Regions from separate parts of the Homo sapiens genome. Here region 2 is linked to region 1. Evidence: fine-mapped expression QTL. A gene starts in region 1. The other region holds a variant in brackets. All regions are shown on one strand. Distances are between the middles of the regions. Region 1 holds the start of MTHFD1L (methylenetetrahydrofolate dehydrogenase (NADP+ dependent) 1 like). Region 2 overlaps RAET1E-AS1 (RAET1E antisense RNA 1).

The links. PIP is the estimated chance that this variant, and not a neighbour inherited with it, causes the effect.
Region 2: its variant is the best candidate, but not a certain one, in a credible set for the expression of MTHFD1L in tibial nerve (GTEx, PIP 0.80).

The regions. Positions count from the first base shown.
Region 1 is chr6:150,863,212-150,868,583 of GRCh38, reverse strand. It overlaps MTHFD1L (methylenetetrahydrofolate dehydrogenase (NADP+ dependent) 1 like), which reads right to left and starts at 2,882. Exons shown (of 28, transcript NM_015440.5): 1 at 2,535-2,882. The coding sequence starts at 2,761. RefSeq lists silencers at 1,711-1,860, 1,981-2,180, 2,341-2,750, 2,811-3,040.
Region 2 is chr6:149,898,244-149,903,615 of GRCh38, reverse strand. All of the region lies in intron 1 of RAET1E-AS1 (RAET1E antisense RNA 1), which reads right to left. Among named protein-coding and RNA genes, the nearest start is that of RAET1E, 2.8 kb to the right of the region's middle. RefSeq lists a silencer at 4,949-5,243. The variant A/CA (reference allele first, on the strand shown) is at 2,778.

The sequences.
Region 1 (5,372 bases):
AGGCAGATCACGAGGTCAGGAGTTTGAGACCAGCCTGGCCAACATGGTGAAACCCCGTCTCTACTAAAAACACAAAATAAGCCAGGCGTGGTAGTGCGAGCCTGTAATCCCAGCTACTCAGGAGGCTGAGGCAGGGGAATCGCTTGAACCCGGGAGGCGGAGGTTGCAGTGAGCCGAGATCCCGCCACTGCACTCCAACCTGTGCGACAGAGTGAGATTCCGTCTCAAAAAAAAAAAAAAAAAATTAATAGCCACCATTTGTTGAGGGACTTGTCTTGTATGTGACAGTCCTGGGCTATGTATTTTGCATGTGTCCTCTCACATAATTGTTTCCATAACCCCTTGAGGTAAGTACTGTTACTCCTCCCATTTTCCTGAAGGAATTGAGTTTGGAGAACCCAGTGCAGGCCCTAAAGCCCCCTACTAACCTCTTTACTCATCTCTAAGGCAGTCATGGCTTTAAACCTAAAAGTATGCATGAATAGCCCAGGCGCGGTGGGTCACGCCTGTAATCCCAACACTTTGGGAGGCCAAGGCAGTCGGATCACCTGAGGTCAGGAGTTCAAGACCAGCCTGGCCAACATGGTGAGACATCCTGTCTTTACTCAAAATACAAAAATTAGCCGGGCGTGGTGGCGTGCTCCTGTAATCCCAGCTACTCGGGAGGCTGAGGCAGGGGAATCGCCTGAACCTGGGAGGCAGAGGTTGCAGGGAGCCAAGATCGTGCCATTGCACTCCAGCCTGAGTGACAGAGCAAGACTCCGTCTCAAAAAAAAAAAAAAAAAAAAAGAATATGTATGAATAAAACCCACAGATGACCCCAAATCTTGAAGCATTCCTTCTGTAACCATTTCACAAGTGCTTATTACATGCTGGGCACTCTCTCCAGGACCTAGGATATAGCACCGAAGAGACGGCTGTCTCATGAAGCTCATATTCCAGGTGGGTGAGACAGACAAGAAATGAGCAAAGAAGGAAGTTTCAGGTAATAATCAGTTTACCTAGAAAATAAAACAGCATGACGGGAGAAGTTTTTTTGCCGCCTATCCTGGCTTCAGACTCTAACCGGTAAGATGAGTCTCAGCAACGTGCAGGTTAAAACCTAATGACCTGACGTGTAATTAATCCCAGCGCTTTTGGGGGCAGGGATGATGGCTTGCGCCCAGGAGTTCCAGACCAGCCTGGTAACAGAGTGGTGCTCTGTCTCTATGAAAATAAAATAAAATAATCCGGGCATGGTAGCGCACACCTGTGGTCCCAGTTACACTGGAGGCTAAGGCGGGAGAATCGCTTGAGCCCAGGAGGCGGAGGCTGCATTGAGCCGAGATGGCACCACTGAACTCCAGCCTGAGCAACAAAGCGAGACTCCATTTCTAAAAGAAAAAGAAGACAGAGAACAAGAAAAACTAAATAAATGGCCCCTTAAAATCATCCGCCACATAATAAAGAGCCTAGGAAACGTATTTTACTGAGATGGGAGAAGGGGAGTGGGGAGGAAAATGGGAGAGCAGAGGGAGGAAGGAAAGGCAGAGAGAAAGGCAAGCAGGCAATGACTAAGAAAGAAGGCTAGAAGGAAAGGGAAGAGGATGTGAATGGAGGAGGTGGTCCGCTGGCCGGGGAAACCGCATCCTGGAACTCGTTCCTAATCCCAGTTCCGAGGGAGGCGGAAGGGGCTTTCTTGCCACCCCCAAGTTGTCCCGAAGGGCTCGCCCTGCAAGGCCCGAGACCCGTGCGCCCCTCTGGGCGAGGGCGGGGAAGGCTGGAGCCCAGGGGCGGGGACCGGGACGGGAAAGGCCGGGCCCGGGGCTCCCAGTTCGCTCTGGGCCCGCAGAAAACCCTGCAAACCCAGCTGCGCGGGGACTCCGTGGGCGCTGCGCGGCGAAGCTGGAAACCAGCGCTGAGACCTCTCGGATTCCCCCCGGCGGCTGTCCCGGGGGCCCGGCTCCACCTTTGCCGTTCCGGGAAAAGCGGACGTCAGCCACAGACCCCAGCCCAGCAGGAGGGGCCGCGCGCGGGGAAGGGCGCACAACACCAGGGAGCTTCGCGCGGGCGGCGCTGGGCCCGAGCCCGCCTCTCCCGAGCTCCGCTTGCCCTTCCCGAACCCCGGGCCAGCCGGCGCGCCGAGCCGCAGCCCCGCCCTCCTCCTGCTCCTCGCCCCCTCCCCTGGTTTCCGCCCCAGCCGCACCGCCCCTTTACCGTCTGGGTCGCGCCCGGCGCGATTGCATCAGAGCCGGCGGCCGGCTGCGCACGTGGAGCCGGGCGTGCGGTCCATGCCGCTAGGCGCCCATTGGAGATGCCCACGCCCACCTGCGCTGCGGGCCCGGTCGGGTACTGGATCCCCCGTTCTCCGCCAGCGCTCCCGGCCGCAGTGCCCAAGCCCGCGTTTCCCGACACACCGCCCGGCCCCCCTAATGAGTTGGCACCAAACACTCGCAGCCCCGCGCCCCGCTCCCCACGGCGGTCCCGGGCGCTCCGCCCCTGGGTCGGGGCCACAGCCGCTGGAGACCTGGGCCAGGGCCAGACCCGACACTCACCTGACGATGGAGTCCCGCGCCGCGGGCGTTCGGCCGCCGGGGCTGCAGCTGCTCCGGGCCTGGCCATCCTGCGGCCGCCGCTGTCCAAGCAGGCCCTCCCGGCCACCGCCGCCGCCTCCGCCGCCGCCGCTGCTAGCGCGACAGGGCACACGGAGGCGGCGCGGAGGGCCCGGGGGCTGGGGCGGGCGGCGGAGCTGGCGCAGGACGAGCGGCAGACGCGTGCCCATGGCGCGGGACGGCTGGTTCTCAGGGGACACGGAGCTGCGGCTGCCGAGGGCGGCGGGGCGCGTGCCAGGGGAGCAGGCGGCGGCGGCGGCGGCGGCGGCGGGAAGGACCTGGCGCTTCCTCCTCGTCCCAGGGGCCCCTAGGGGGCACTGCACCCGGCGGCCGTGACGTGCGGAGGGCGGGGGCCTGCGAGCCGCCGGCCGGGATGTCACGGCTTTGGGCACTTTGGTTTGGTAAGCTGTACCAGACAGAGGGTGGGGTGCGGAGTGGGACTCAGACTCTGCCCTGAGACTCAGCCTCCCTCCCTTCAGCCTGAAAGGCCGAGGTGACCCTTGGTACTCAGGGCGCCAAGTTTAGACGGGAGGGCTTGGATTTGCTGTACTGGAGGTGGCCTGAGGATAAGAGGCTTTGTAACCTTAGGCAGGGGCACTTAATCTCGGTGAGCTTGCGGGGTCTTCGTCAGTACCACAGAGATAACAATGCTCTTCTTAAAACCTTAAAAGGATTTTATAGTCCTGATTGGTTCCAGGGCCCCTCCAGGGGACCCACGTCCACAAATGCTCAAGTCCTTGGTAAAAAAAAAAAAAAAAAAAAGTGTTTGCATATCACCTACACACATCTTCCCATCATAAACTTTAGGTCATCTCCACATTCCCTAAGTCCTCACCTAACATCGTGGAGGGGTTCTTGGAAACTGAAACTTTAAGCCAAATGACTGTAAGGAAAACAGTTTGACCACAGGCTAATTGATATGAGTGAAGTTCCTACAACATATCTGTGGTCACAAAATCGCCCCTAAACTTCGAAATAAAGACCAAAACACTTCTAATATTAAACATTGAAATAAGTGTGAGCCATGCATATATTTAAGGAAGATTTTTAGCTCACGCCTATAATCCCAACACTTTGGGAGGCTGAGGTGGGCAGATCACGTGAGGCCAGAAGTTCAAGACCAGCTTGGCCAACATGGCGAAACCCCATCTCTACTAAAAATACAGAAAATTGGCTGGGTGTGGTGGCGCGTGCCTGTATTCTCAGCTACTCGGGAGGCTGAGGCAGGAGAATCGCTTGAACCCAGGAGCCAGAGGTTGCAGTGAGCCGAGATCATGTCACTGTACTCTAGCCTGGGCGACAGAGCACAGCTCTGTCTCAAAGAAAAAGTTTTTTTTAAACACCCCCTATCCCTCTCGCTTAGAGAAAAATAAAGATTAATAAAAGTGAGATCATTTTTACCGGCTTATTCCAACTCAGGGCACCTCACAGGGTGTGCTCACACACACCCACACTCACACTCGGATCGTGTAGATGCACCAATTTACCTAAAGTGCACTGCACGGCTTTGGGATGTGACAGGACACCAGAAGACAGAGAAAATCCACACAGACATGGATAAAACGTGACAGTGGACCCAGCCAGAAATCTATTTTTTTCTCATCATTATAAGAAAACCACTGAGCAAAATGATGAAATGATGTTATTCCAGGACCTGCTGTACTTATAATACCTAATACAATGTAAATGCTATGTAAATAGATATTACACTGTACTTTTTTATTTCTATGATTTTTTATTATTTTTTGTTATTGTAATTTTTTCAAATACTTTCAGTCCCAGGTTGATTGAGGATACAGAGGGCTGACCATAAGTTCCAAGTAAAGTGGATATCAGATTGTAATTTTATGATTCCCAAGTGAGGGTCAGATTGTTAACTTTATATTTTTACAACCTTATACCCTTATAATTCCCAGATAAGGTGGGAATAAAACTAGTCCAAGTTACAGAGATTGGTTTTCCATTAGCCGAGCACCATACTGGGACAGTGCTGGAAGGACCCTTCATACAATCCTAACAAAAGTAGGGAATTGAGAGCTATTGTCTTGACCTTCAACCTTTGGAAACTGGGGTCCAGAGAGGCCCATCTGTTTACTGGCAGAGCTGGGAGATTGAGGCTGCAATGAGCTGTGAGCGTGTCACTGCACTCCAACCTGGGCAACAGAGTGAGACCCTGTCTCAAAAAAAAAAAAAAAAAAAAAAAAAGGCTTCCTGAAGAAAGTGAAAGAGGTGGCAGCTGGAGGCAAGACCTTAGCAGTTGAGCTAAGGGAAGGTCAGCTAAGGGAAGGAAATGAGCTAAGGGAAGGTCAGTGTTGGAAAAGTGGGAATGTTGGAAATGAAGGAACAACATGAGCAAAAGTCTGGAGTAGAAGAGAGCATGATGAATTTGAGATACTGAGAGCTGTTCAGTCGAGTGGGGAGGGCAGGGGAAAATGAGTAGCAATGGCAAGTAAGAAGAGCTGGGCAGGGCCACGTTGTGGCAGGTCACGAAACCATTGCATTGCATTTTTTTTTTTTTTTTGAGATGGAATCTAGCTTTATTGCCCAGGCTGGAGTGCAGTGGCGCAATCTTGTCTCACTGCAGCCTCCACTCCCAGGTTCAAGCAATTCTCCTGCCTCAGCCTCCCAAGTAGCAGGGATTACAGCCAACCACCATGCCTGGCTAATTTTGTGTTTTTGGCAGAGACAGGGTTTCGCCATCTTGGCCAAGCTGCTCTCAAATTCCTGACCTCAGGTGATTTGCCCTCCTCGGCCTCCTCCCAAAGTGTTGGGATTACAGGA
Region 2 (5,372 bases), 960 kb after region 1:
CTCTTCCGTCTGCCTCTTCCTCTATAAAGATCCTGTGATTACATTGGAACCCCAGGGAAATCCAGAAAATCACCCCGTTTCCGGGGCAGATGATGAGCAACCTCAACTCCATCTGTAGCCTTCACTCCCTTTTCCATATAACCCAGTGGGGGGTTCCAGGGATTCACACCGGCATCCTCTGGGATTGGCGGGAGTGGGTGGGGGTGGCAGGTGATTATTCTTTGCAAAACACATGCCATATAATTTATGTATATATCATTTTTATACCACAAAGATGGGGGAAGAAGCAGAGCAATATTGGAGCAGAGATTTTGCATCCTGTTAAAATTAAGTTGGTTTTAATATGATCTAGGTTGTGGTAAATTAAGATATTAATTGGAATCCCCTGAAATGACTAACAAAATAACTTTTTTAAATAAAAAATGAAAAAGAGACAATAAAGGAAGTAAAATGATGCAGTAGAAAATATCTGTTTAACACAAAACAAAGCAATAGTGGTGGAAAAGATGAAGAAAATGACATAGTGCATATGGAAAACTAAGAAAAAGGTGGCAGACGTAAATTCTGTTCCACCTTAGCAGTAATTCCCTTACATGTCAAAGTGATAAACATTCAAAAGAAAAAGCAAAGATTCTCAGAATGCATTTAAAAAATGATCTAAAGATACAATGTAGATCCCAAGATACAAGTAGTTTAAAAGTAGACATATGGAAAAGATAAAACACATCCATAGTAAACAAAGACAACTGAAATTGCTATTAATAATATCAGGCAGAATCATCTTTAAGACAAACAATTTTATAAACATTCTAAGAACCAATCAACGAAAGGGAAACTCACAAGGAAAATTAGAAAATACTTTGAGATGAATGGAAACAAATACACAGCATACTATGATTTATAAGAAGCAGATAAAGCAGCACTTAAAGGAAAACTTACTGCTGTAAATGCCAGTATACTGAGAAAGAACAGGACAAAGAAAGGATTATGTCAAATTAATAACTTGATATTTCACTTTAAGAAACTCAAAGAGCAAAGCGACCTAAGCCCCAAATAACAAATGGAAGGAAATAAAAATTGGAGTGTAAATAAATGAAATAAAGAATAGAAAAACATTGGCAAACTCAATAAAACCAAAAGTTGGTTCTTTGAAAAGATCAACCAAATTGTCAAACCTTAACCTAGAATGACTAGGTAAATGGTGGAGGGATAAAACTCAAATGACTAATACCAGGAATGAAAGAAGAAACATCCCTACCAACTTTACAGAAACAAAAAGGATTATAAGGGAATACTATGTACAACCGTATGTCAATGAATTCAAGAACCTGGATGAAATGAACATCTTTCTTTTCCATTTATTTTCCAGTTATTATTGAGCCACTTTTGATTGTATCCTCCCTTCTCTACCAGAAAGGACAAAGGTTGATCACCAAAGACAATTTCAGACTCTTGTCAGGCCTAGGGACAGCAGCAGAGGCACCACAAGCTTCTCTGATGCCATAGATTGGCCTTCCCATGATCTGCCACTTCTCTAGACGTTTATTGTTTTCTGTTGAAGATGCTGGAGCTCTAAGCCAGCACTTTAAGGATTACTTGTTTTCTCCAGGTGTTTCCTGTGTATATACAAGAGACGATAGATAGATAGATAGATAGATAGATAGATAGATAGATAGATAGATAGATAGATAGATAGATAATAAACTCCTGTTTGTTTGTTTTTTTCATGAAAATCATTTTTCCTCCCCGCCGTACAAAGGCTTGTCAAAGGCACACTAATGAGCAGCTGATTGGGCTCCTCCAACCGATGAACTCTGTGTTTGGCTCTGTTTGGAAACACACTGAGGAGTCCAGCCTCTTTGGCTGCCACAGGATACATTTCCAGAAACACCTGTTAGGCGTCTGTGGATGAGGAAGGCATCAGGCCTTCCTACCTGAAGCCTTATTGACTCCTGCAAGTGCTAAAGAAACCCCTGGGGACAGGCTAGGCTGCCTGTTCCTACTGGATTTTAGGCCTGGAGACTTCTGGTGGGGGCAGCCCAGGCAGGGAAATCAGGAGCTGTGGACAGGGAGTGGAGGAGATCAGGAGGGGATGGCAAGACCCCCAGCCTGACCCCAGTCCCCAGTGCCCTCTAGCAGCAGAAATAGGAAAAGGAGGTTGAGGGCAGGCAATACTGCAACCTCCTGTGCTGAGCATACAGATAGGTCCAGCCTGGTGGCCCCGCACCTGCAGATTCAAGGCAGCCCTGCCCTGCACTAACCCTGCACCTCCCAGGCCCACTGCTCTCCCACTGTGACCCCATCCGGAGACTGGTCTATCTAAAGACCAGGACATTGACCAGCAGCCCAGTGCTCTGCTCCACGGCCTCTGTCAGGCAGGACGGAGCTGGAGCCCAGGCAGAGATAAGGACAGGGGAAGATGGCCCTTGTCAGCCAGGGATGTTCTGTCCTGCTGGGCATGCGGCCTCTCTCACAGAGAACCTACGTGATCTTGCTTCCCCCACTTTCTTATCTCATAGGCCCTACATATTTGCCAGAAACACCTGCATTCCTAACTCTTTGCCAGATGTCAGGGGCCAGCCGCCAGGGGAACTGCGTGGCAGAGCCCCTGTGCCAATGGCCAGAGAAATTCAGGAGTTCCCAGAAAACAGAGGGTGCTGGAAATCCAGGTGGGAGAGCTGCTCCTTGTGCCAAGATTTTCCTCAGAGGCTCCTTCTCCGGTGCCCTGAGCAGGGCCAAGCCTGGCGAATATTAGAATTTCTGCTGGGCTGAGAAAA[A/CA]ACAGCAAAAGGAGAAGCAGTCTGGGGGGTGACTTGGAGGTGGAAACTGGGTGCGGTCAGAAAAGTGAGTGGAGCCTGGAGGCCAATGAGCACCCCACCCTGGCAAGTCACAGCAGGACAGGGCAGGGGACCAGGCATAGAATTGGGCCAGTTGTAACCTGCACAACCTGGAAAAGGATTTGTATTTGTATTTCATGTACCCATTGGGTAAGGTGGCATTTATCTCCAGCTTCCTTGAGGTGAGCTCAGTTTAGGAAGTTTCTTTTCGACTGAACTGTGTCAGGAATCTCGCCAATGCCTGATGCTGCCCACCACATCTCTTTTGCTGCTGCTGTGGCTGGAACCTGCCTGGGAGGCACCGGCTGTGAAGGCTGGAGACCCAGGGAGGCTGCCCTGACACCTCTCCTTGTTCCCTGAGCCAGGGGGCCCATCTGAGCCCCTTCACCCCTGGGGAGCTGTTTTCTGTGCCTTGTATGAGGTTTTTGTCTTCACAGAAATGGCATTCTAGTAAGAGATAGAAATTTTAAATGGATAGATATGTAAATTATATGGTATGTGTGTTGGGCAGAAGAATTCCCTCTCCAATCCTCAGGATGGCAGATCCAGTCCCTGGAACCTCTGTGTTGGGGTACATGGAAAGGGCGGTGAAAGCTGTGGATGGAGCTGAGGTGGCTAATCAGCTGCCCTGGGAAAACCAGCCATGGAGGGGTAGTGTTCTCATGTAAACCAGGACTCAGCCTGGTGGAGCTGCCTTTGAAGATGAGGAAATGGGGTCCTGAGCCATGGACGTGGGCAGTTGAGCAGCTGGAAAAGGCAAGGAGGAGACAGGTTCTCCCCGAGAGCCTCCCAAAGGAACACAGCCCTGACAGCACAGTGATGATAGCTCCGTGAGACTATTCAGACTTCTGAGCTCCAGAATGGTAAAAGAATGAATGTATGTTGTTTTAAGGCACTAAATTTGCAGTAATTTGTTGCAACCACAATTAAAAGTTAATAAGGTTTGTTTGATTGTTTGTTTATAGGGATAGAGTCTCATTCTGTTGCCCAGGCTGCAAAGCAGTGGCGTGATCTCGGCTCACTGCAACCTCCGCCTCCTGGCTTCAAGTGATTCTCCTGACTCAATAAGCTGAGTAGATGGGATTACAGGCACTGGCCACCACACCCGGCTAATTCTCTTATTTTTAGTAGAGACAGGGTTTCAACATGTTGGCCAGGCTGGTCTCAAACTCAACCTCAGGTGATCCAGCCTCCCTGACCTCCCAAAATGCTGGGATTACAGGTGTAAGCCACTGTGCGCGGCTTACTAAGGTATGTTTTAAAGTGGTCATTGCTTTAGGGGAACAAGTTCAGGTGAAGAAGGTCCAGGATGGCCTGGGCAGGCAGAGGTCTCCCATTATGAAATAGAGGCCTTTACATTTAACAGTGGTTAAGATGAAAAATCACGTTACATGAATCATACCACAATTTTAAAAAAAGAAAGAAAGAAAGAAATACAAGGGTTCCAAATGCGAGGGGCAGGGAGAACCAGGCGTGGAAGGGTGTGCCACCTGGGAGCAGGAGTGGGAGTGAGCCGGGCAGATGCCTGAAGGGCAGTCCATGCTGAAGGGAGGGCAATGCAAAGTCCCAAGGCACGGGGACATCTGCAGGGCTCTGAAGACCAGCAAGGAGGCCGAGGGTGGAGGTCGGAACTGAGCGAGTGAGGGGGCATAATGGACAGCTGGCCAGACTGTGCAGGGCTCTCTAGGCATCTGTAGTGACTTTGGTTTTACTGAGAGAAAAAGGGCACTTTTGGAGAATTGGAGCAGAGGGGGGCGTGAGTGATGAGGTTCTGAAGATCACTCTGGCTGCGCTGTAGCCATTTGGGAGGTGGGGACAGGCACGGAGAACCAAGTAGGGCAGCACTGCAATCACCCTGGCCAGGAGGACGGTGGCCTAGAACCAGGGTCGAGTACTAGATGACAGTGTGGTCAAATCATAGATATTTTATTTCTAGTCCAAAGAAGAGATAAGAAAGAGGTCGAGCAAATAGGTGATTTTTTTTTTAAATTATTCACAGCCTTATAACATAACCTCTAAATCTTCAGTAAAGTTGGCTACATTCACAAGTAGCTGGTGTCACTTTGGTGGGGGCTTTGTAAGGAAGTGGGCAGGGTGTCTTTTAAGGAAGACTCAGGAGAAGTGCTGGTCTTCCAGTTGCAGAGGGGAATGGAGTTGCAAGAAGAAAACAGCGAGGTTCAGTGACACACAGTGCGAACACGAGCTCAGGGGGCAGGAGCTCCAGGTCTCAAGAGGGCAGGACGATAATGCAGTGTTTGCACAGAAACCAAGCAATAGAGGGAGCCAGCACCCACCAGAAATGAGGTAGGGCCGCTGTCACAGCTATGCCAGGACCTGCAGAAGCCTAAACCCTGAAAAAAGGTGGGGGCCCCCACCTACATATCAAGGAAAACATATGTATGCCATCACATGCTGGTCTCCAACAACTGCTAAAATTACATTAAATCCTTTCTAGAATTTCGTGGCTGGGACTTGAGTCTGGTCTTGGTCCTTCTACTGATGGTGAATCCAGTACTGAATTGGATCCAATTCTGGACG